4 separate regions of the Homo sapiens genome follow, and regions 1, 3 and 4 are each linked to region 2. Evidence: fine-mapped expression QTL. A gene starts in region 2. Each other region holds a variant in brackets. All regions are shown on one strand. Distances are from middle to middle. Region 1 overlaps CRTC1 (CREB regulated transcription coactivator 1). Region 2 holds the start of CRLF1 (cytokine receptor like factor 1). Region 3 has its middle 5.2 kb from the start of KLHL26. Region 4 overlaps CRTC1 (CREB regulated transcription coactivator 1).

What was found. PIP is the estimated chance that this variant, and not a neighbour inherited with it, causes the effect.
Region 1: its variant is the best candidate, but not a certain one, in a credible set for the expression of CRLF1 in cerebellum (GTEx, PIP 0.68).
Region 3: its variant is the best candidate, but not a certain one, in a credible set for the expression of CRLF1 in aorta (GTEx, PIP 0.82).
Region 4: its variant is the best candidate, but not a certain one, in a credible set for the expression of CRLF1 in cerebellar hemisphere (GTEx, PIP 0.58).

Annotation. Positions count from the first base shown.
Region 1 is chr19:18,704,508-18,709,651 of GRCh38, forward strand. The region is part of intron 1 of CRTC1 (CREB regulated transcription coactivator 1); the gene reads left to right. Among named protein-coding and RNA genes, the nearest start is that of CRTC1, 23 kb to the left of the region's middle. The variant C/A (reference allele first, on the strand shown) is at 2,586.
Region 2 is chr19:18,603,736-18,608,866 of GRCh38, forward strand. CRLF1 (cytokine receptor like factor 1) reads right to left here and starts at 3,064. Exons shown (of 9, transcript NM_004750.5): 1 at 2,807-3,064. The coding sequence starts at 2,921. RefSeq lists an enhancer at 2,186-3,104.
Region 3 is chr19:18,629,218-18,634,361 of GRCh38, forward strand. It overlaps the pseudogene RN7SL155P. Among named protein-coding and RNA genes, the nearest start is that of KLHL26, 5.2 kb to the right of the region's middle. The variant G/A (reference allele first, on the strand shown) is at 2,803.
Region 4 is chr19:18,716,203-18,721,346 of GRCh38, forward strand. All of the region lies in intron 1 of CRTC1 (CREB regulated transcription coactivator 1), which reads left to right. Among named protein-coding and RNA genes, the nearest start is that of CRTC1, 35 kb to the left of the region's middle. The variant A/G (reference allele first, on the strand shown) is at 2,758.

The DNA of each region.
Region 1 (5,144 bases), 100 kb after region 2:
TCGAGACCAGTCTAGTCAACATGTTGAAACCCCGTCTCTATTAAAAATACAAAAATTAGCTGGGTGTGGTGGCAGGCGCCTGTAATCCCAGCTACTCGGGATGCTGAGGCAGGAGAATCGCTTGAACCCTGGAGGCAGAGGTTGCAGTGAGCCATGATCGCACCACTGCACTGCAGCCTGGGCAACAGAACAAGACCCTGTCTCAAAAACAAACCAAAAACAAAACAAATACACATAACGTGTAAGTTACTGTCTTAACCTTAAGTGTGCAGTTCAGTGGCATTTAGTAAGTATCCTCACATTGTTTTGCAATCATCACCACCATCTGTGTTCAGAGCTTTTGCATCTTCCCGCACAGAAACTCTGTCCCCATTAAACACTCACCCACCCACCCCCTACCCCCCAATCCCCAACCCCCACCCTCCTACTACCCTCCATTCCCTCCCAGCCCCTGGCAACCACCATCCTATTTTCCACCTCTATGAGTTTGACGACTCCAGGGACCTCATGTAAGGAGAATCATCCAGGATTTATCATTTTGTGTCTGGCTTATTTCACTGAGCATAATGTCCTCAAGGTTCGTCCACGTTGTAACGTGTCAGAACGTCCTTCCCCTCTAAGGCTGTTATTCCACTGTATGGATGGGACACATTTTGTTTATCCGTTCATCTGTTGATGGACATTTGGCTGGTTTCACCATTTGGCTATTGTGCGTAGTGCTGCTGTGAACATTGGTGTACATCTCTTTGAGTCCCTACTCATAATTTTTTTGGGTATATTCCCAGACATGGGATTGCTGGATCATGTGTAATTGTATGTTTAATTTTTTTTGAGACAGAGTTTTGCTCTACCACCCATGCTGGAGTGCAGTGGCGTGATCTCGGCTCACCACATCCTCTGCCTCCTGGGTTCAAGCGGTTCTGCCTCAGCCTCCCGAGTAGCTGGAATTACAGGCGCATGCCACCACACCTGGCTAATCTTTGTGTTTTTAATGGAGATGGGGGTTTCACCATGTTCGCCAGGCTGGTCTCGAACTCCTGACCTCAGATGATCCACCTGCCTTGGCCTCCCAAAGTGCTGGGATTACAGGCGTGAACCACCACGCCCAGCCAGCATGTTTAATTTTTTGAGGAACTGCCACACTGTTCTCTGTAGTGGCTATACCATTTTATGTTCCTACCAACAGTGTATAAGGATTTCAGTTTCTCCATATCCTCAATAACACTTGTTATTTTCTGATTTTTTGATAATAGCCATCCTAATGTCTACTAATATTTACTAATCCTAATATTTTTTTTTTGCAAAAAATGATATTTTGATAGGGATTGTGGTTTTGGTTTGCATTTCCCTAATGATTAGTGATGTTGAGCATCTTTTCATGTGCTTCTTGGCCATTTGTCTGTCTTTGGAGAAATGTTTATTCAAGTCCTGTGCCCTTTTCCTTTTCCTCTCTCTCTCTCTTTTTTTTTTTTTTTAATGCTTTTTAGTATATTCATACTTTATCTATTTTAAATTGGGTTGTTTTTCTTTTTGCACTTGGAGATCCTGTTTTCCCAGAGCTATTTGTTGAAAAGACCATCCTTTTCCCATTGAGTAGTTTGGCACCCTTGTTGAAAATCACTTGACCATATATGTGACAGTTTATTTCTGGGCTTTCTATTCTATTCCATTGGTCTTTTTTTTTTTTTTTTTTTTTTTTTTTTTTTTTTTTTTTTTAGACAGAGTCTTGCTCTGTCTCTCAGGCTGGAGTGCAGTGGTGCAATCTTGGCTCACTGCAACCTCCTCCTCCCGGGTTCAAAGCGATTCTCCTGCCTTAGCCTCTTGAGTAGCTGGGATTACAGGTGCCCATCACCACACTCAGCTAATTTTTGTATTTTTAGTAGAGATGGGGTTTCACCATGTTGGCCAGGCTAGTCTTGAACTCTTGACCTCAGATGATCCCCCCCGCCTTGGCCTCCCGAAGTGTTGGGATTATAGGCGTGAGCCACCACATCTGGCCCCATTGGTCTTTATGTTTCTCTTTATGCCAGTATCACACTCTTTTGATTACTGTAGCTTTGTAGTTAAGTTTTGAGATCAAGAAGTGTGAGTCTTCCAATTTTGTTATTCTTTTTCAATATTGTCTTGGCTATTTGAGGTTTTTTGAGATTCTGTATGGATTTTAGGGTGGATTTTTTTCTATTTCTGCGAAAAAGGATATTTTGATAGGGATTGTGGTTTTGGTTTGCATTTCCCTAATGATTAGTGCTGTTGAGCATCTTTTCATGTGCTTATTGGCCATTTGTCTTTGGAGAAATGTTTATTCAAGTCCTTTGCCCTTGTTTTTTAGCGCTTTTTAGTACATTCACATTTTGACTATTTTTAAATTGGGTTGTTTTTCTTTTTGTTGGTGGGTTGTAAGAGTTCTTTATATAGTCTACATATTGATCCCTTATCATCTATATGATTCGCAAATATTTTCTCTCATTCCGTGGGAATGGGGCCTTTTCACTCTGTTGATTACGTCTTTTGATGCACAAGTGTTTTTAATTTTGGCAGCATCCAATTTATGTATTTTTTCTTTTGTTGCCTGTGCTTTTGGTGTC[C/A]GATCCAAGAAATTATTGCCAACTCCAGTGTATGAAGCTTTTCCTCTGTTTTCTTCCAAGAGTTTTATAGTTTTAGTATATATAGTTTTAGCTTTTATGGTTTTAGTTATAGAGTTACAGTTTTAGTTTTTTACTTTTATAGTTTTAGCTTTAGATCTTTGATCCGTCTTGAGTTAATTTTTGTATATGGTGTTAGATCAGGGCACAGCTTCATTCTTTTGCATATGGAGATCTTGTTTTTCCAGAGCCGTTTTGTTGAAAAGACTGTCCCTTCCCCGTTGAATGGTTTGGCACCCTTGTTGAAAATCACTTGACCATATATGTGAGGGTTTATTTCTGGGCTTTTATTCTATTCCATTGGTCTTGATGTTTGTCTTTATGTCAGTACCACACTGTTTTGATTACTGTAGCTTTGTAGTTAAGTTTTGAAATAACAAAGTGTGAGTCCTCCAATTTTGTTATTTTTCAAGATTGTCTTGTCTATTTCAGATTCCTTGAGATCCCATATGGATTTTAGGGTGGATTTTTTTCTATTTCTTCAGGAAATGGTATTTTGGTAGGGATTGCATTGAATCTAGACTGTTTTGGGTAGTATTGCCACCTCTGAAATATTAAGTTGTGGCCGGGCACAGTGGTTCACGCCTGTAATCCCACCACTTTGGGAGGCCAAGGCAGGAGGATCACTTGAGCCCAGGAGTTCAAGACCAGGCAGAGCAACGTAGTCAGATCCTGTCTCTATTTAAAACAACAACAACAAAAAGAAGTCACACTCTCCTCCTCCCAGCTATGTGACCCTGGGCAAGCCCATAATTGGCCCCTGCCTCAGTTTCCCCATCTGTAAGATGTGCCATGAAGGGGGCTAACTCTGTCAATGCATGAACAGTCCTCAGGACTGTAGCTTGCACAGGTAGTGCTCCATGAAGGCAGCCATGTCTCCTGGGAGGGCTGCCTGGAGGAGGAGAGCTCTGCAGTGGGACATTAGGGGTGAGGTCCGAGTTGCCGGTGCAAGAGGTGGGTAGGGAAGGGAAGGCTCTTTGGGTGGAGGAGAAACAGCATATATGGGGCCCAGAGGCCTACAGGAGGCAGGGAAGGAGGAAGGAGAGAGGAGACCCAGATCTGGAAAGGCCCAAGAGCCAAGCTGGAGAGCTTGGACGTGATCCCACAGCCAGCTATGGGGTGGGGAGGGGTGACCCAGGATCAGCTTTGAGCTTTAAGAAAGGCTAGAGAAAAGGTGGTGGGGTTGGAGAGGAGAACAGGGAAGGGAGTTGTGGGTTCTGGAGGGGCTCAGGAACTGCAGAGGAGAGGTGAACCCAGGGTGCCCGAGAGAGGAACGGGGCCACCCCGGGTTTCTGGCTTCTGTATCAGCATCAGGAAGATCATGGCACTGTCTGCCAGGGCCAGGTGAATTGGGCACGTTGGCTGGGGGAATCGGGACCATGACGAGCCTGGTGAGGGGCTGCTGGGCTGGAGGAGTCTCCTGGGGCATCACAGGGAATGTTCTGGAAGCAGGGCTGGGGCGGCACTTGGGAGTTAGCTGACAGTAAGGAGTGACGTGAGAAACACAGAGGCCAAGTCCTCGGGGAGCCAAGTTTGAGAGGCAGACGGAGCGTGGGGACCGAGGTCAGGGCTCCTGTGGGGCCGGCCTGGCCCTTCCCTTCCCACCGCCGTTCGGGACCCTGTGGTATCTTCCGTGGGCACTGGCCCTGCTCCCAGCTGAGCGGTGCCCAGAAGCAGGAGGACCCTGGTTTCCTGCCCCTACTCAGCCACCCTGCCCACGCCGTGGCAAGCCCAGAGCTGTGCTCAGTTCAGGCAGCCGTGTGGCCACCCTGGTGACTCCTCCCTGCCGCTCCCTGCTGTCCTGTCCTCCGTGGGGTGCTGTCTCTAGGCCCGGGAGGAAGGCTGAGGGGAAGGCCTCATGGGTGCAGTGGGTAAATGTCCACCCGGTACCTCCTCTGAGCCCGCATGGTGCTCGGAGGTGCAGGGTCCCAGGGCTGTTTCTGGAGCAGCAGGTGCCAGGCATGGCATGGGAGGGGCCTTGTGGAGCCCAGAGTCGCAGGTGCACCTGGCAGTGGGCAGAGCAGCTGCAGAGGCTTGGTGTTGGCAGGGTGCACATGAGGAGGTGGTAGCCAAGGGGACAGGGCCTCCCAGCCTGGTGCCCGCAGCCTCCCTCACACAGGGACCACCTTTCCCCTCACCTGGCCCCTCATCCTCTGTCCTGATGTCCCCTCATGGTGCCTTTTTATGCCCACCTTGCCCCCACACGTAACCCTCAGGCAGTGGGAGAAGGGCTGCAGCAGGGGGGTGTGGCTCCTGGTGCAGGGGACAGGCCAGGTGGCAGGAGCCAGGACAGCTTCAGAGGGAGAAGCCTCCAGGCCCAAAATGGGGCCTAGACAGGAAGGAGGGAGCGGGCAGGTTAAGAAGGGCAGTATCTGCATGGGGCTGAGAGGGAGCAGAGAGGGCATCTGAGGGTGGCTGGGGGCTGTGTCTGAGCAAGGCCATGGATGGGAGTTGGGATGAGCCTCTGTACCTGCGGACACCCCTGCTGAGGTCCTCTGGGAA
Region 2 (5,131 bases):
ATTTTCCGGGGCAAACTTGGCTCGAGGGCTCTGTCTCGCTGGAGCCTGGAATCGCAGTTGCGCTTGGGGCTTGGCCCAGGGCTCGCCGGAGGTCTCCGCGTCCGTGCGAAGGAGCCGGCTGAGCGGGCCAGAGCCGAGGAGGCGGGGGCGGCCGAGGGGGGCGGGGGGCTGGGGGCCAGGGGACCGCCCTGGAGGTCCCAGGCAGCCAGCCGCCCGCTAATTCGGAATTCCTTTTGCATGAACTCGGGTGTGCCAGCGTCTCTGCCCCGGCCCACCCACCGCTTCCTGCCTGGGCCCCCCCAACAGAGTGGGAGGCACGGCCAGGCCTGCCCAGACCCCAGGCCCCTCTCAGCCCTTCTAGAGTGGGTCTCACTCCTCCTGCCCCCACCACCCGCCAGCTTGGCCTGGGCAGGAAGGGGCTCTCTGGGGGGTCCTGGCTGGGGGGCGCTGCCCCTCTGCCACACCCGCCTGGCCTGGGCCGGCGTGGCTCACTTGCCAGCAGCTGCAGCTGCCCTCCCGGGGCTGGGCGGGGGACACCGGGCGGCGACGGGTTGTAGGGGGAAGGCAAGGCCAGGCGGGCCTGGACAGACCAATCTCCCACCCCCTTAGCCCCAGCCGGTAAGGTCAGAAGGACACTTTCTCCTCCCGGGATATGGGCGCAACACCAGTGGGAGAACCTGGCCAATTGACTTCCCCTCTCCAGTTCTCAATTTTCTCCTCCATAAAATGGGAGGAGAAATACGTTCTACTTGCTGGGGAGATCAATGAGATGTGATTGCAATCCAATGTCCAGAGGGCTCAGAAGCCTGAAGCCCCCAGGAGCTGCAAAGATGACAGCCCCTCCCAGCTCTGGGGTCCCGGCTGACTAGGCACTCCCTCCAGGCCTCCACAAACAATGGGCTAAGGCGCTGGGGACAGAGATGCACGCACTCCAGGCCAGGCAGGGGAGCAGCTGGGAACAGCCCACTGAGCCGGAGTTGGTGGGGGCTTGGCTTGGTTTGGAGGGCCTCCTAGGGCTCCCCAAAGCAGATCCCTAGGTTGGGCTTTTGAACAGCTCCCTTTTCACTCCCTGCCTCCCCTCCTTTCCCGCAGAGCTGGGGCCTTTAAAAGTTTTTTCTCTCCTCTTTTCCCAATCTGGAGCCACTGCCGTTATTAAAAAGGAACACCATGTGTTTTAAAAGGGAAAAGTGTGAGATTCTCTGCAAGCAGGGCGGAAGGGTGGCCTCCATCCCAGGGTCCCCACGGGGGTCCCCATCTCCCGTCCCGCTGGTACCTGCAGACACTTTACGACCCACCCGCCTGCTGGTCAGGTGCTAAGACACACCGTAAGTAGAAACATATTGCCGAGGTGTGAGAATCTTTTATTTAATTTCTTCCCCCCTTAAAGGAAAAAACACACTTACAGTGCCCCCCCACCCCCTACACCTTCGCCTGCTGCTCTACTGGCTGAAAACAAAGCTTGGCGCTCACAGTGGCACTCACAGGCGCTGCCCACCGCCTGGCAGAGCCGTCAGGGGCCCTGGGAGGGCCCGAGGTAGCCCCTCACCTGAAAGCCAGGGGAGAGCCAGGCTTTCAGCAAGTGCCCCTAGAAGATGCCCGGACCCTGCCCCTTCCCGGAGGAGCCCTACAGGCAGCCCGCAAACAGCCCAGCACAGGGTGGATGAGCCTGGGAGCAGTGTGTGCCCGGCGACCCCCGGGGTGGCCCGTGCGCCTGGATGGGGTGCGTGGAGTGACTGAACATCTGGGGCGAGTGGTGCCTGCCTCTGTGCCCCTGGGTCGCCTCCCCTGTGGGATGTGTGTGACCGTGAATGTGTGTGTCGGGGATGGAATGTGTGTGCGTCCGCGATGGTGCGCGAATGTGCACCTGGGATGCAGTGTGCGCGAGTTTGAGGGCGAGGGTGACGGGCCACAAGCCAGTGTGATTCTTTGTGTGTCTCTGGGTGTGTCCCAGAGCGGGTCTGCATACGGAGACGTATCCTTGCGGGGGTGTTCCTTGGATGGGGGGCCCCAGAGTGCCTGAGGCCAGAAGTCCCTCCAGGGCAGGGGTCTTGGCCCGTAGGGCAGCGGGTTCCCAGTGGGCCCCCTCAAAGTTTGGGCCCGCTGGTGCCCGGACTCACTGGCTCCCGCTCCCTCTCCCTCTCACCCACTCGCTCACAAAGATTCCTCTCGCTGGAGGCTCTCCGCCCGACGCAGCCTGGCTGAAAACGGTTCTAAGCGCCGCCGGTGGCGGGGACTCCGCGGACCCCCGTGCGCCGGGTCCCGCAGGGGGAGGGCGGTGGCGCCGGCCCGTGGAGACACAAGTCCCCCGGGACCCCGGGCTGCGCGCCAGGCGGCCAGAGCGGCCCCCCTGCAGCCCCGCCCTCCCCGTGGGGCTCATCCCTCCGCCTGGGGGGGCCCGCTGGGGGCCCGCACCCAGCGCGCCAACCGCGTGCGCCCCCGCCTGGGAGCGGTGCCCTGCAGTCCCAGGGGCCCAGAGTCCACCGAAGCAGACGCGTGCGCCCGCCACGTCCTGGCATGCAGAGGGTCTCAGGCCGCGATCCCCCCAGCCCCCGGGGGCCTGGCCTGGCGCCCTCGGCCCAGCTGCCCAGGTAACAGGGCCTCGGGCGCGGAAGCAGGACTCTCTGGACAGTGGACTGCGGCGCCGTGTGCCCCGCAGGTGAGGGCGCCCCGAGGGCTGCGCCGGGGGCGCCTTCCTTTGTTCCCCGGCCGTCCAGGTGGCGCCCGCGCCCCCTCCCCCCGCGGCTGCCCCCGGGGCGCCCGCCCTCTGCTCTGGCAGGGGGGAAGGAGTGGGGCGCCGGGTACTCACGGGCTCCTGATCCGGCTCGCGGCGCCCCGAGGACGCAGAGCAGCAGCAGCAGGGGCAGCAACGGCGGCGGCCGCCGCGCGGATTGGGCGGCGGGGCCCCGGCGGCCGGCGGGCATGGGGCCGGCGCTGCCGGGGGCGCGCGGCGGGCTGCGGCTCGGCGGCGGTGGCGCAGGGCGCGGGACGCAGGCCGGGCGCGGGAGGGCGCGGGCCAGGCCGCCCGCACGTCGCTGGGCGCGGACGCGGAGGCCGGAGCAAGTCTGAGCAGCCGAATTGACAAGGCGCTAATGCGCCGCTGGCCCCGCCCGGCCCCGCCCCCGGCCCGGCCCGGCCCCGGGGGGGCGGCGGGCCCCGCACCGGCCTCCCCGCCGCCCGCCCGCCCGCGGGCACCGCGCGCCCCGCCCGTCCCGCCTCCGCCCCACCGAGAACCGCGCGCGCCCTATCCCGCGGCCCAAAGCCCCCTAACTCAACCCCTACCGGCCCAGGACCTCCCTCTCCAACCCTGCCAGCTCCAGGCTTCCCACCCCCAGTCTGGGACCCGGCACCCCCAATCCCGTTTCCATAACCCTGCCCACTTCCCTGCACCCTCCTCTCAGCCCAGTGCCTCTTCAGTGGCCCCTTTGGTCCCCAACCCTGCCCCACTCCTCCATTCCCCCTTCCACGGCCCAATCTTCTGTCTCGGCCCCCACCCCAGCTCTGGCCCCGCCCCCCCCACCGAGCGGTCCTTGAGTCCCGCCTACCCCCATCTCCAGCCCCTCAGCCTTCCCAGGGGCCTAAAAGTCACCCCCAGCCCCACGCCCTCGGCGCGCGGGTTCCAGCCCTCCCACCTCATCCTGCCTCTTTTCGATTCTCCGCGAGTAGCCTCGGCCCCAGGCTTTGCTGGAAGAAAGGAGAAAAAGCAGGAAGGCACGGAGTCCCTCGCCTTCGCCCTGGCTGCGCTGTCCCCTTCGCGCGCGGGATGGGTTTGAGGTTGCTCTGGGCGCCCCGGGGGCCTCGGGAGGGAGCTCCTGCGTGGGCAGACGGGGAGATGTAGTCCCCTGTGGGAGCCGGGACCCAGGCCTGCGCGGGAACTGGGTCCCGCACCGCAGTAAGAGGGATTCCCAGGAGGAGAGCGGTAAGAAGCTCTTTCCCCGGGACCTATTCACACCCCGCCACGGAAAAATCCACTCAGCGGCCCGCGGGTGGGGTGCGCCACGCGGTGAGTAATCGCTTCGGCGGCCACCGCCCGCCGACTCCAGGTAACGCCGGCTGCCCGGAGCGACGCATAGTTTGTCTTCCTTCTTTTGCGCAAAGAGCCTTCTCCGTGTTATTATTTTTGGCCATTGCTCGAGTTTCGGGACCCCTCCCGGTCCGGGCGTCTCATCTCCCTCCTCCCGGTCCCCACCCGATGCGGGCGCCCAGGAATAAAGGGTTCCTGGCCTCCAAGGCTGCTGCGGATGGGGGTGCCTGAAATGAGAGTTGGGGGGTGCAATTACCCACTTTTGGTCGCAGCCCCGCCCCCAGCTGCAGCGCCCAGGGAAGGGAACGGCTCCAAGTCCCCTTTTCCAGGAGTCCCTTAGAGGCCTGGATTCTCTCTCCTGGTCCCCAACCAGCCAAGGGGGTAAAAGTGTCTGAGGGGGGCTCAGGAGCCCCCATTTGTCTGCCCAAGACTGAAGCCCCACCCTCTCCTACTTAAATCTCCAGTTCAGACTCCAGACTGTCAAAAAACAAGATTGGGGGATGGGAGCCTATAGGGGCCCAGGGCGCCCCTGCTCCATCTGAATTCTGGATGGAGAAGACAGACAAGGAGAGACGCTGCCATTTACTTCGGGAAACCAGGCCTTTTGTGCCTCAGTTTCTTCCTCTGCACAGTGGGCACCACCCAGTCTAGGAGCTTCTGTGGGAAGACGCAGGGCAGCAGAAGTCTCTACAATCCAAGCCCTTAGCACAGCACTGGAGGATATCCTGGAGCAGAGGTGACCCCCAGCCCTGCTTGTCCCCTCTGAAACATGGAGCCATAGTCCCACCTGCCAGGGGACCCAGAGGGTTAAGTGGAGGTGGCAGTCCTTGGCTGGAATTGAGTTTTTAGGATACTCACCACTACTCCCCCATGGCTCCTGTCTGCAGATGCTCTCTGTGTGGATAGAGACGCCTCACTCCCTCCTGGGAGGACTTCAGGCTTCTGGAGCAAAACCTTGATTTTTTCCTCCCTCCATTTCTGCTTCTCTTCCAGTCATTTTGGTTTTGGGAAAGGGCTCTCCCATCCATCCAGGTGCTCAGGCCAGAGACCTGGAAGCGCACGTGACAACTCTCTCCTTTGCTCATCCCTCATGTCCAATTCATCAGCAAA
Region 3 (5,144 bases), 25 kb after region 2:
CCAGACTCACCACAGCTCTGTCTCTGAGCTTCAATTTCCTCTTCTGTCCTAGAGCCCTGCCCCTCCCTCCATTTTCATCCTGAGCTGCACACAGACCTGGTAGTGGGTGGGTGGGTGGCTGGCGTCATGGCAACGGTAGCACAGGGTTGCCACAGCAACTTGGTTCCCTAGTGACAGGCCTGAGTTTCTTAGCCCAGGGGTGGCAATCCGCCAGGAAGAAATGGGGAGAGGGTGTCCCCAGCATCCAGCTGGCACACAGGGGACATTCTGTAAACACTTGGAGGGCAGGATGGGGATGCATGGTGGCTGTCTTTTCCTGGGGTGCGAAGAGGAGACTTCAGGTCCCTGTTGGGCTCCATGCAGCTCCTGGCACACTCTCCCTCCTCAGGGCCCCCATGCAGGCTGTTCCCTCCGCCTGGAGGCTGTTCCCTCTTCGCTCCGTCTGGCCAGCTCTTCAGCCTGACCTCCTGGCTCAGCCCCAGCTTTTATCATGGTGACAATTAAGTGATGGCTTGTTTGCTTGTGTGATGATTGGTTTAATAAATGTTCCCTCTGCCAGATGCTATGCGCTAGGCGTCTCGGTCACAGCTGTGTCCCACACACCAAGGAGGCTGCTCTCAATACATCTTTGTCGACACTCTCCATCCTTGCTCCGCCTTGCCCACTTCTTCCAAGCCAGTGCGGCCTCATCTCTATCCCTTGAGCTTTTTCTGGCACTGGGCTTAGGTCCTTCATATTATGTCCTCTCAGAATATACGGGAACATTGCACAATGTTCTGGAATGTCCTGGAACATTCTAGAACATTCTGTCCCCTTCTTTTACTGAAGCTGGGACATCATCACCTCTTCAGGGAGGCTCTCCCTGATCTTCTGGCTGAAGCAGTGCTCCCCTACCCAACACACACTTGATCGCTCTCAGCTCATTGCCTTCAAGGCAGTTATTGCCATCTGAAATGGCCTTGGTCATTGATCAATTATATATCTCAGATTTGTCTTTCCCATCAGAATGTACCTTTCAGAATATCTTGGAACATGAGGTCAAGGATCTTGTCGGATGGGCTGACAGTTGAATCCCCAGCAGCCTCTCAGCACCCTAGTCCCCACAGTGGTGGGTCCCAGTTGGTCGCCCCCCAGAGGTAGTCCTAGTTCTTATCACATTGGGTGGATTTGACCTTTTCTTTTTTTTTCTATTGGGATGGGATCCCTCTATGTTGCCACGGCTGGTCTTAAACTCCTGGACTCAAGTGATCCTCCTGCCTCGGCCTCCCAAAGTGCTGGGATTACAGTCTTGAGCCACCGCAACTGGCCTGATTTTGTTTTAGTAAATCAGCTTTTTTTTTTTTTTTTTTTTTTTGAGGCAGAGTCTCACTCTGTCACCCAGGCTGGAGTGCAATGGCTTGGCTCACTGCAAGCTCCGCCTCCTGGGTTCACACCATTCTCCTGCCTCAGCCTCCCAAGTAGCTGGGACTACAGGTGCCCGCCACTACACCCGGCTAATTTTTTGTATTTTTAGTAGAGACGGGGTTTCACCGTGTTAGTCAGGATGGTCTCGATCTCCTGACCTTGTGATCCACACACCTTGGCCTCCCAAAGTGCTGGGATTACAGGCGTGAGCCACCGCGCCCAGCCTTAGTAAACCAGCTTTAATAAGACATAATTTACATCCAATGGCACATCCATGTTAAATGCCCAGTTCAATGAGTTTTGGCAAATGTAATCCTCCTAAGATACCCCTATAATCAAGATATACACTAGGTATGGTGGCTCACACCTGTGATCCCAGCACTTTGGGAGGCTGAAGTGGGAGAATCACTTGAGGCCTGGAGTTCAAGACCAGCCTGAACAATATAGTGAGACTCTGTCTCTACCAAATTTTTTTTACAAAATTAGCCAGGTGTACTGGCATACACCTGTGGTCCCAGCTACTCTGGAGGCTGAGGTACGAGGCTCATTTGACCCAGGAGGTTGAGGCTGCAGTGAGCTATGATTGCGCCACTGCATTTCAGCCTGGGCGACAGAGTGAGACCTTATCTCTAAAAATATAAATAAATAAATAAAAGGGCCCGGCGTGGTGGCTCATGCTTGTAATCCCAGCACTTTAGGAGGCTGAGGTGGACAGATTGCTTGAGCTCAGAAGCTCAAGACCAGCCTGGGCAACATGGTGAAACCTCAACTCTACAAAAAAAAAAAAATGCAAAAATTAGCTGGGCGTGGTGGCGCACACCTGTGGTCTCAGCTACTCGGGAGACTGAGGTAGGAGGATCACTTGAGCCCAGGAAGTCAAGGCTGCAGTGAACTGAGGTTGCACCACTGCACTCTGGGTGACAGAGTGAGACCCTGTCTCAAAAAAATAAATAAATAAAAATAAAATAATAAAATTAGAAAGGCATGGTGGCATATGCCTTATAGTTCTAGCTACTCAGGAAGCTGAGGAGGGAGCATGGCTTGAGCCCAGGAATTGGAGGTTACAGTCAGCTATGATCGTGCCACTGCACTCCAGCCTAGGTGACAGAGCGAGACGAAGACCCTGTCTTTCTTTTTTTTGAGCCAGAGTTTTGCTCTTGTTGCCCAAGCTGGAGTGCAATGGCATGATCTCGGCTCACTGAAACCTCCGACTCCTGGGTTCAAGCCATTCTCCTGCCTCAGCCTCCCGAGTAGCTGGGATTACAGGCATGTGCCACCACGCCCGGCTAATTTTGTATATTTATTTATTTATTTTATTTTTATTTTTATTTTTATTTTTTTTGAGACAGAGTCTCGCTCTGTCACCCAGGCTGGAGTGCAGTGGTGCGATCTGGGCTC[G/A]CTGCAAGCTCCGCCTCCCGGGTTCACGCCATTCTTCTGCCTCAGCCTCCCAAGTAGCTGGGACTATGGGCTCCCACCACCACGCCTGGCTAATTTTTTTTGTATTTTTTAGTAGAGACGGGGTTTCACCATGTTAGCCACGATGGTCTCGATCTCCTGACCTCGTGATCTGCCCGCCTCGGCCTCTCAAAGTGCTGGGATTACAGGCGTGAGCCACCACGCCCGGCCAATTTTGTATTTTTATTAGAGATGAGGTTTCTCCATGTTGGTCAGGCTGGTCTCAAACTCCCGACCTCAGGTGATCCGCCCGCCTTGGCCTCCCAAAGTGCTGGGATTACAGGCGTAAGCCACCGCACCTGGCCAAGACCCTGTCTTTTAAGAAAATGGATAAATAAAACATAAAAAAAGAAGGTAGCCAGTCGAGGTGGCTCGTGCCTGTAATCCCAGTACTTTGGGAGGCCGAAGTGGGCGGATCACCTGAGGTTGGGAGTTTGAGACCAGCCTGGCCAACATGATGAAATGCTGTCTCTGCTAAAAATACAAAAATCAGCCAGGCCTGGTGGTGGGCAACTGTAATTCCAGAGACTTGGGAGGGTGAGGCAGGAGAATCGCTTGAACCCGGGAGGTGGAGGTTGCAGTGATATGAGATCGCGCCACTGCACTCCAGCCTGGGCGACAGAGTGAGACTCTGTCTCAAAAAAACAAAACAAAACAAAAACAACAACAAAAATTTAAATAAATAAATAAAACATAAAAAAAGAAGGTGGGGCCAGTGCAGACATGACTTCAAGGAGGTGCGGGAGGCTGCTGGCTGGGGTAACAGAGAGAGATCATGGTGTTTGTCAGCAAGCCTCACTCATGATCCTGAAAGGATGTGCCGCCTCCATTAAAAAAAAATTTAGGGCCAGGCGCAGTGGCTCACGCCTGTAATCCCAACACTTTGGGAGGCTGAGGTGGGTGAATCGTCTGAGTCAGGAATCCAAGACCAGCCTGGCCAACATGGTGAAACCCTGTCTCTACTAAAAATACAAAAATTAGCCAGGCGTGGTAGTGCATGCCTGTAATCCCGGCTACTTGGGAGGCTGAGGCAGGAGAATTGCTTGAACCTCGGAGGCGGAGGTTGCGGTGAGCCAAGATTGTGCCATTACACTCCAGCCTGGTGACAGAGCGAGACTCTGTCTCAAAAAAAAAAAAAAAAGGTAAAACACAGAGTTTGTTAGATAGGAGAAAAATCAAACAGGACTGAGGACAGGGAGTTGATGTCGGGGGACCTTGGGCTTGCCCCAGGACCACTCCGTGGTGACTGCCTGATGGGGCAGACACTGTCCCCAGCCTAAAACCACAGGAACTTGAAGCCCTCCCCCAAGGCTTCACTTTCCTCCTCCATAACACCTGGGGATTGTAAGGGAGGCCTCCAAGCTCTGACCTGAGGGTGTGAGCCCTGCAGCTGGTCTGAAGTGGGAGAGCAGGTGGCGCGGGCCCTGCCTCTAGGAGAGCCGTGCCAGCTGTGGGCCAGATGGTGGCCAGGCCCGTGGATGCTGCCTGCTATGTCCCTGCCTGCCGGCTCTGCTAGACCACAGGTCATCATTACTGGATGAGGCGTGTGCAGTCACCGGCGTGGGCCCTCCAGGTCCTCCACTTGTCTCTGCTCCATGCCAGTGATAGTGGCCTCTAGAGCTCAGGCCAACAGCTCTGGCAGAGGTCACTGGCCTCACTCTGCCTCACTCGACATCCCATCTGTTCCATCTCTTTTTGGTCCCACCTGCAAAGTGCATCTCAACTAGGACTACCTCCCACCCCTCCATGTCTGTCACCCTGGGATGAGCCCTACCCATTTTTCCCTGGATTATATGCCTCCTGACTCATGTCCCAAATTCAAGATATTGTCCCCCAGTTGTCAGACACTGTTGAACAGTCAGACACTGTAACACTGTTAAATTGACACTGTTAAAACCAATGTCAGCTGGGTGCAGTGGTTCACGCTATAATCCTGGCACTTTGGGAGGCTGAGGCGGGCAGATCACTTGAGGTCAGGAGTTCGAGACCAGCCTGGCCAACATGGTGAAACCCCGTCTCTAATAAAAATACAAAAATTATGCTGGGCACAGTGGTTCACTCCTGTAATCCCAGCACTTTGGGAGGCCAAGGCAGGTGGATCACTTGAGGTCAGGAGTTTGAGACCAGCCTGTCCAACATGGTGAAACCATCTCAACTAAAAATACAAAAATTGGCTGGGCGTGGTGGCACATGCCTGTAGTCCCAGCTACTCGGGAGGCTGAGGCAGGAGAATCACTTGAACCTGGGAGGCGAAGATTGCAGTGAGCTGAGATTGTGCCACGGCA
Region 4 (5,144 bases), 110 kb after region 2:
TCAGCCTGAGGGTCATTATTGGAGGTGGGGCCAGAATGTGGCTCCCGAATGACTCTTTTTTTTTTTTTGAGACGCAATCTTGCTCTGTCACCCAGGCTGGAGTGCAGTGGCACGATCTCAGCTCACTGCAGTCTCCACCTCCCAGGTTCAAGCAGTTCTCTGCCTCAGCCTCCCAAGTAGCTGGGATTACAGGCGTCTGCCACCACACCCAGCTAATTTTTGTATTTTTAGTAGAGATGGGGTTTCACCATGTTGGCCAGGCTGGTCTCAAACTCCTGACCTCATGATCCACCCACCTTGGCCTCCCAAAGTGCTGGGATTACAGGTGTGAGCAACTGTGCCTGGCCGGCTCCTGCATGACTCTTAGCCCAGGTGCAGCCCAGCAAGCATTAGCGTGTGGAGAGCCCAGCGGGCATTAGTGTGTGGAGAGGGCATGGCTAGTATAGGGGCTAGCGAGTAGAGCATGCTGTGTCGTCTTTCCTGTAGAGCTGGAGTGACCTGCTCAGGTGGGAAGTTTGGAGAGACTCCAGCTGAGTGGTTTGGGCGCTGCAGGGTTAACTTGAGACCCCAGTAGGAGGCTTCTGTATTTGTCCAGGCAAGAGAAGATGTGGCTTGGGCCAGAATGAGGACAGAAGAGGCGAGAGGGCAGAAGAGGTGCTGGGACATGGGGGAGCCAGGTGGGGCATGGGGGGTTCCTAAGGAAGGGACAGGTTTGGGCAGTTGTGAATGTGCTCGTGTGTGTGCAAGTGAGTGGGAGCTGGCGTGCAGGCAGGACAGGAGTGCAGGCAGGACAGGAGTGTGAGCATGTGTGTGTGCGTGTGAGCATATGTGCATGCACGTGCATGAATGTGTTTATGTGACTATGTGCATTGCTGTGAGTGTGCACACATGTGGCTGGGTGCATGTGTGTGAACACGTGTGATGTCTGTACAGCCTCCCTGGTGGGTGACTGGCGCTGGGCTGGAGACATGAGTTTGGGGAGCTTTGAGTGAGGGGTGATGGTGGCACTCCCAGGGTGGGGCTGAGAGGGGGCTGCTGGGCTTGGGAGTGGAGGGCCCAGGGGAAGTCTTTCCCCTAGCACCCTCTCCCAGGGTCTTCAGGCTGTGTGGGAGCCAGGACTGGGTCTGTCTCCTTGTGGCCTCTGTCCTTGGTGCAGTAATGACCACTGGGTAGTGGCCCTTGGGGTCAAGGGCATCCCTGGAGCCCTTGCCATAGATGCTGAGCTGGAGCAGGGCTGCCACCCCATACTGTTCAGGGGCCAGTCCCTCCCCTCTGGAGCTGATCACCCCAAACACTGTCCCCTCAGAAGGGTCGTAGTGCTCACTCACAGGAGCCTGTGTTTCTGCCTGTGTGTGGGGCACTGGGGCCCAGAGAGGCAGACACAGATGCGTGCAGCCACCAGCTTGGATGCAGGACCCCTGGGCTCAAACACTGCCTTCCAGTCTCAGCCTACAGTGAGTATGGGCGGGGCTGGAGGATGCAGCTCAGAGAGGAGGGTGCAGGGTTCCGGGGTGGGCCAAATGCCGGGTGGGAGCAGAGCAGGGCCGCAGGGACATGGGAGGGCCTCTCGCAGGACGGTTTCTCATGCCAGCCCTGGTCAAGGCAGCAGTGGTTTCCAGACACGGGGGTGCGTGTGTGAGGCAGGAACAGTACAAGCAGAGGGCCCCTGGGGAGAAGGCCTTTGACAGCAGGAAGAGGACCTGGCAGTAGGGACAGGAGTGAGGGAGAAGAAAAAGACAGCAGGGCCTGGGCAGCCCCGTCACGGGGCTGGCTTTGAATCTTACTTATCTATTGTTGAGGTGAACACCACATAACATAAGATTCACCATCTGAAAGTGAACAGTTCCATGGCGTTTGGCGCATTCACAGTATTGTGCAGGCATCACAGCTATCTAGTTCCAGAACATTCTCATCATCCAAAGGAGACCTTGTCCCCATTAGCAGTCCCTCCCCTCCTCTCCTCCCCAGCCCCTGGCAGTTACTAATCTGCTTCCTGTCTCTGTGGATTTGCCTGTTCTGAGCATTTCAGATCGATGGAATCTCACACCCTGTGGCCTTCTGTACCTGGCTTCTCTCACTCAGCATCACATGTTCAGTTTCATCCACATTGTAGCATGGGTCAGTGCTTCCTTCCTTTTTTGTTGTTCCTCTTGAGACAGGGTCTCACTCTGTCACCCAGGCTGGAGTGCAGTGGTACGATCACAGCTCACTGCAGCCTCCACCTCTTGGGCTCTGTCCAACCTCCCACCTCTGCCTCTCGAATAGCTGAAATTATTGGTGTGCACCACCATGCATGCCTGGCTAATTTTTTTTTTTTTTTTTTAGAAACAGGGTTTCACCATATTGGCCAGGCTGCTCTCAAACTCCTGGCCTCAAGGGATCTTCCCTCCTCCGCCTCCCAAAGTGCTGGGATTACAAGTGTGAGCCACCGTGCCCAGCCTTCATTCCTTTTCATGGCTGAATCTTATTCCACTGTATGGACAGACCAGTCTTATTCATTCATCCCTTGGCACACACGTGGGTTTTCCCACCTTTTGGCTGTTGTCCATTGTGCTGGTACACACACTCATGTATGATTGTCTTCATTTCGTGGGGGCATCCGTCCAGGAGTGGGATTGCTTGGTCATAACAGCAGCTCAGCATGTCACTTGTTGAGGAACCGCCATACAGATTGGGGGTTTATTTTAAATAGGATGGAAGCCTACTGGTGTGTTTAAAACGGGAGCATAACACGATTTGAACTGAATGAATAAAGAG[A/G]AGAAAATGAAGGAGTCTCGGCAGCCACTTGCAGAGGGAGCAGGGAGGCCTGGGAGGAGGTCACGTGGGTGTCTGGGTGCGAGATGACACGGGCTAGTACCAGGGAGGGGGCTGACGATGGGCCCTGGAAGTCGAGCTGCTGGGAAGTGATCATGGGAGTGATGAGGCAGGCAGAGGAAAGGGACACCTCCAGCCTCTGTCCCTGCTTCTTCTACCCTGGCGGGCGCAGCCTCCAACTAGTGACCCCTCCTCTGGGCTTGGTCCTTCCCTGCATCGTGTGTGTCTGCTGGGCACTCCAAATGTGGTGCCTGGCCCCGCTAGCCCAGAATGCGGCCTGAAGATGGTGAGACAGGCAAGGGCTAACCCCACCGGGTCCCCAGGGCCTGCAGCAGGTGCCACCTGGGGCCTGGCTAGGAGTTCAGGGGCCTGGGTGAAGCCTTTGGGACAGGGCTGTGAGGGCACTCAAGGGGTACCAGGTGGGCCCCGGCAGGCCCAGGATCTGGCCTTCCAAATCACAAAATGACTTTTGGTGTTATGTAACTCCATAGTCAAGCTATGTCTAAAAAATGGAGCATAAAAGCTATTTTGGGCCCATGGTAATGAGGGCATCTCGCCTTTGTCTTAGCCGTCCTGGGGGGAGGCAGCGTCGAAAGAGCTGCTCAGAGAGGCGGGTTCAGCCCAGACCCCAAGCAAGCCCTGTGTCAGCAGGCAGATGCCGTTTTCAAAAATCATTTGTTCCGCCTCGACCGGAGGTGGCTCCTGGCAGATCGCCCCGCGGTGCTCAGAATCCCAGAGGCCTGCGGGCGGCTGACCCGGGGCGAGCAGGGCTGGGCCTCCTCTGCCGTGTCTGGGATCTGACTTCCCTGAGGTTAGGTCCGGCACCTGTCAGAAACCAGGCCTGACATTTTCAAGATGGGCACAGGCCCGCTCCGGGAAGGCCCCAGGCCCGTCCATGTGGGCAGCGTCGGCGTCGGGCTTCTTGCCTGGGACCCAGGGGCCGCTCTTGGGGAGGGAGACCCTGTTTCAAGTGGCCAGCATCCCCGCCAGTGGTTTGCATTATTCAATTGGTGATAAGATTTAAAATTAAACTGCAAAGGATCTGTTCCCCCAGCTACAAATAGACGTGTGCTTGCACATTCCAGAACACAAGTGTGCACCAAGAGATGTGTTTTGAGTCAAGGTGGAGAAAAAGTGAGTTTTTTTGTTTTGTTTTGTTTTGTTTTTGAGATGGAGTCTCACTGTCTCCCAGGCTGAAGTGTAGTGACGCGATCTCGTGTCACTGCAACCTCTGCTTCCCTGGTTCAAGCAATTCTCCTGCCTCAGCCTCCCGAGTAGCTGGGATTACAGATGTGAGCCACCACACCTGACTAACTTTTGTATTTTCTTTCTTTCTTTCTTTTTCTTTTTTTTGAGACAGTCTCGCTCTGTCACCCAGGCTGGAGTGCAGTGGCATGATCTCGGCTCACTGCAAGCTCCGCCTTCCGGGTTCACGCCATTCTCCTGCCTCAGCCTCCCGAGTAACTGGGACTACAGTCGCCTGCCACCACGCCCGGCTAATTTTTAGTGTTTTTTTTTTTTTTTTTTTTTTAGCAGAGATGGGGTTTCACCATGTTAGTCAGGATGGTCTTGATCTCCTGACCTTGTGATCCGCCCGCCTCGGCCTCCCAGAGTGCTGGGATAACAGGCGTGAGCCACCACGCCCGGCCTAACTTTGGTACTTTCAGTAGAGACGGGGTTTCATCATGTTGGCCAGGCTGATCTCGAACTCCTGACCTCAAGAGATCCACCCACCTTGACCTCCCAAAGTACTGGGATTGCAGGTGTGAGCTGCTGCACCCGGCTGAGTTTTGGAATTCCCTCTCTTTCTCTCTGCTCATGTACACTATGTGCACGCATGCATGGGGCCCTCTCTGCCCGAGTACACTGCCTGCACACATGCGTGGGGCCTTAGTCCTTCCTTTCCTGTTGGTGGCTGTAACAAATGACCACAAACTGGGTATCTTAAAACAATAGAAATGTATTCAGTGCAGGTGTCGGCAGGGCTGGTGCCTGCAGGAGGCTCTAGGGGAGGATCCTTCCTGCCTCCTCCAGCTTCAGTGGCTCTAGGCGCTCTTTGCATCACTCCAGTCTCTGCCTTCATTGTCATGTGGACACCTCCTCTCACTGTGTCTCTTCTCATCTTCTGAGGATGCTAGTCATTGGATTTAAGGCATACCCTACTCCAGTTCAACCTCTGTTTTTTTTTTTTTTTTGAGACGGAGTCTCGCTCTGTCGTCCAGGCTGGAGGGCAGTGGCGCGATCTCGGCTCACTGCAAGCTCCGCCTCCTGGGTTCACGCCATTCTCCTGCCTCAGCCTCCCGAGTAGCTGGGACTTCAGGCGCCCGCCA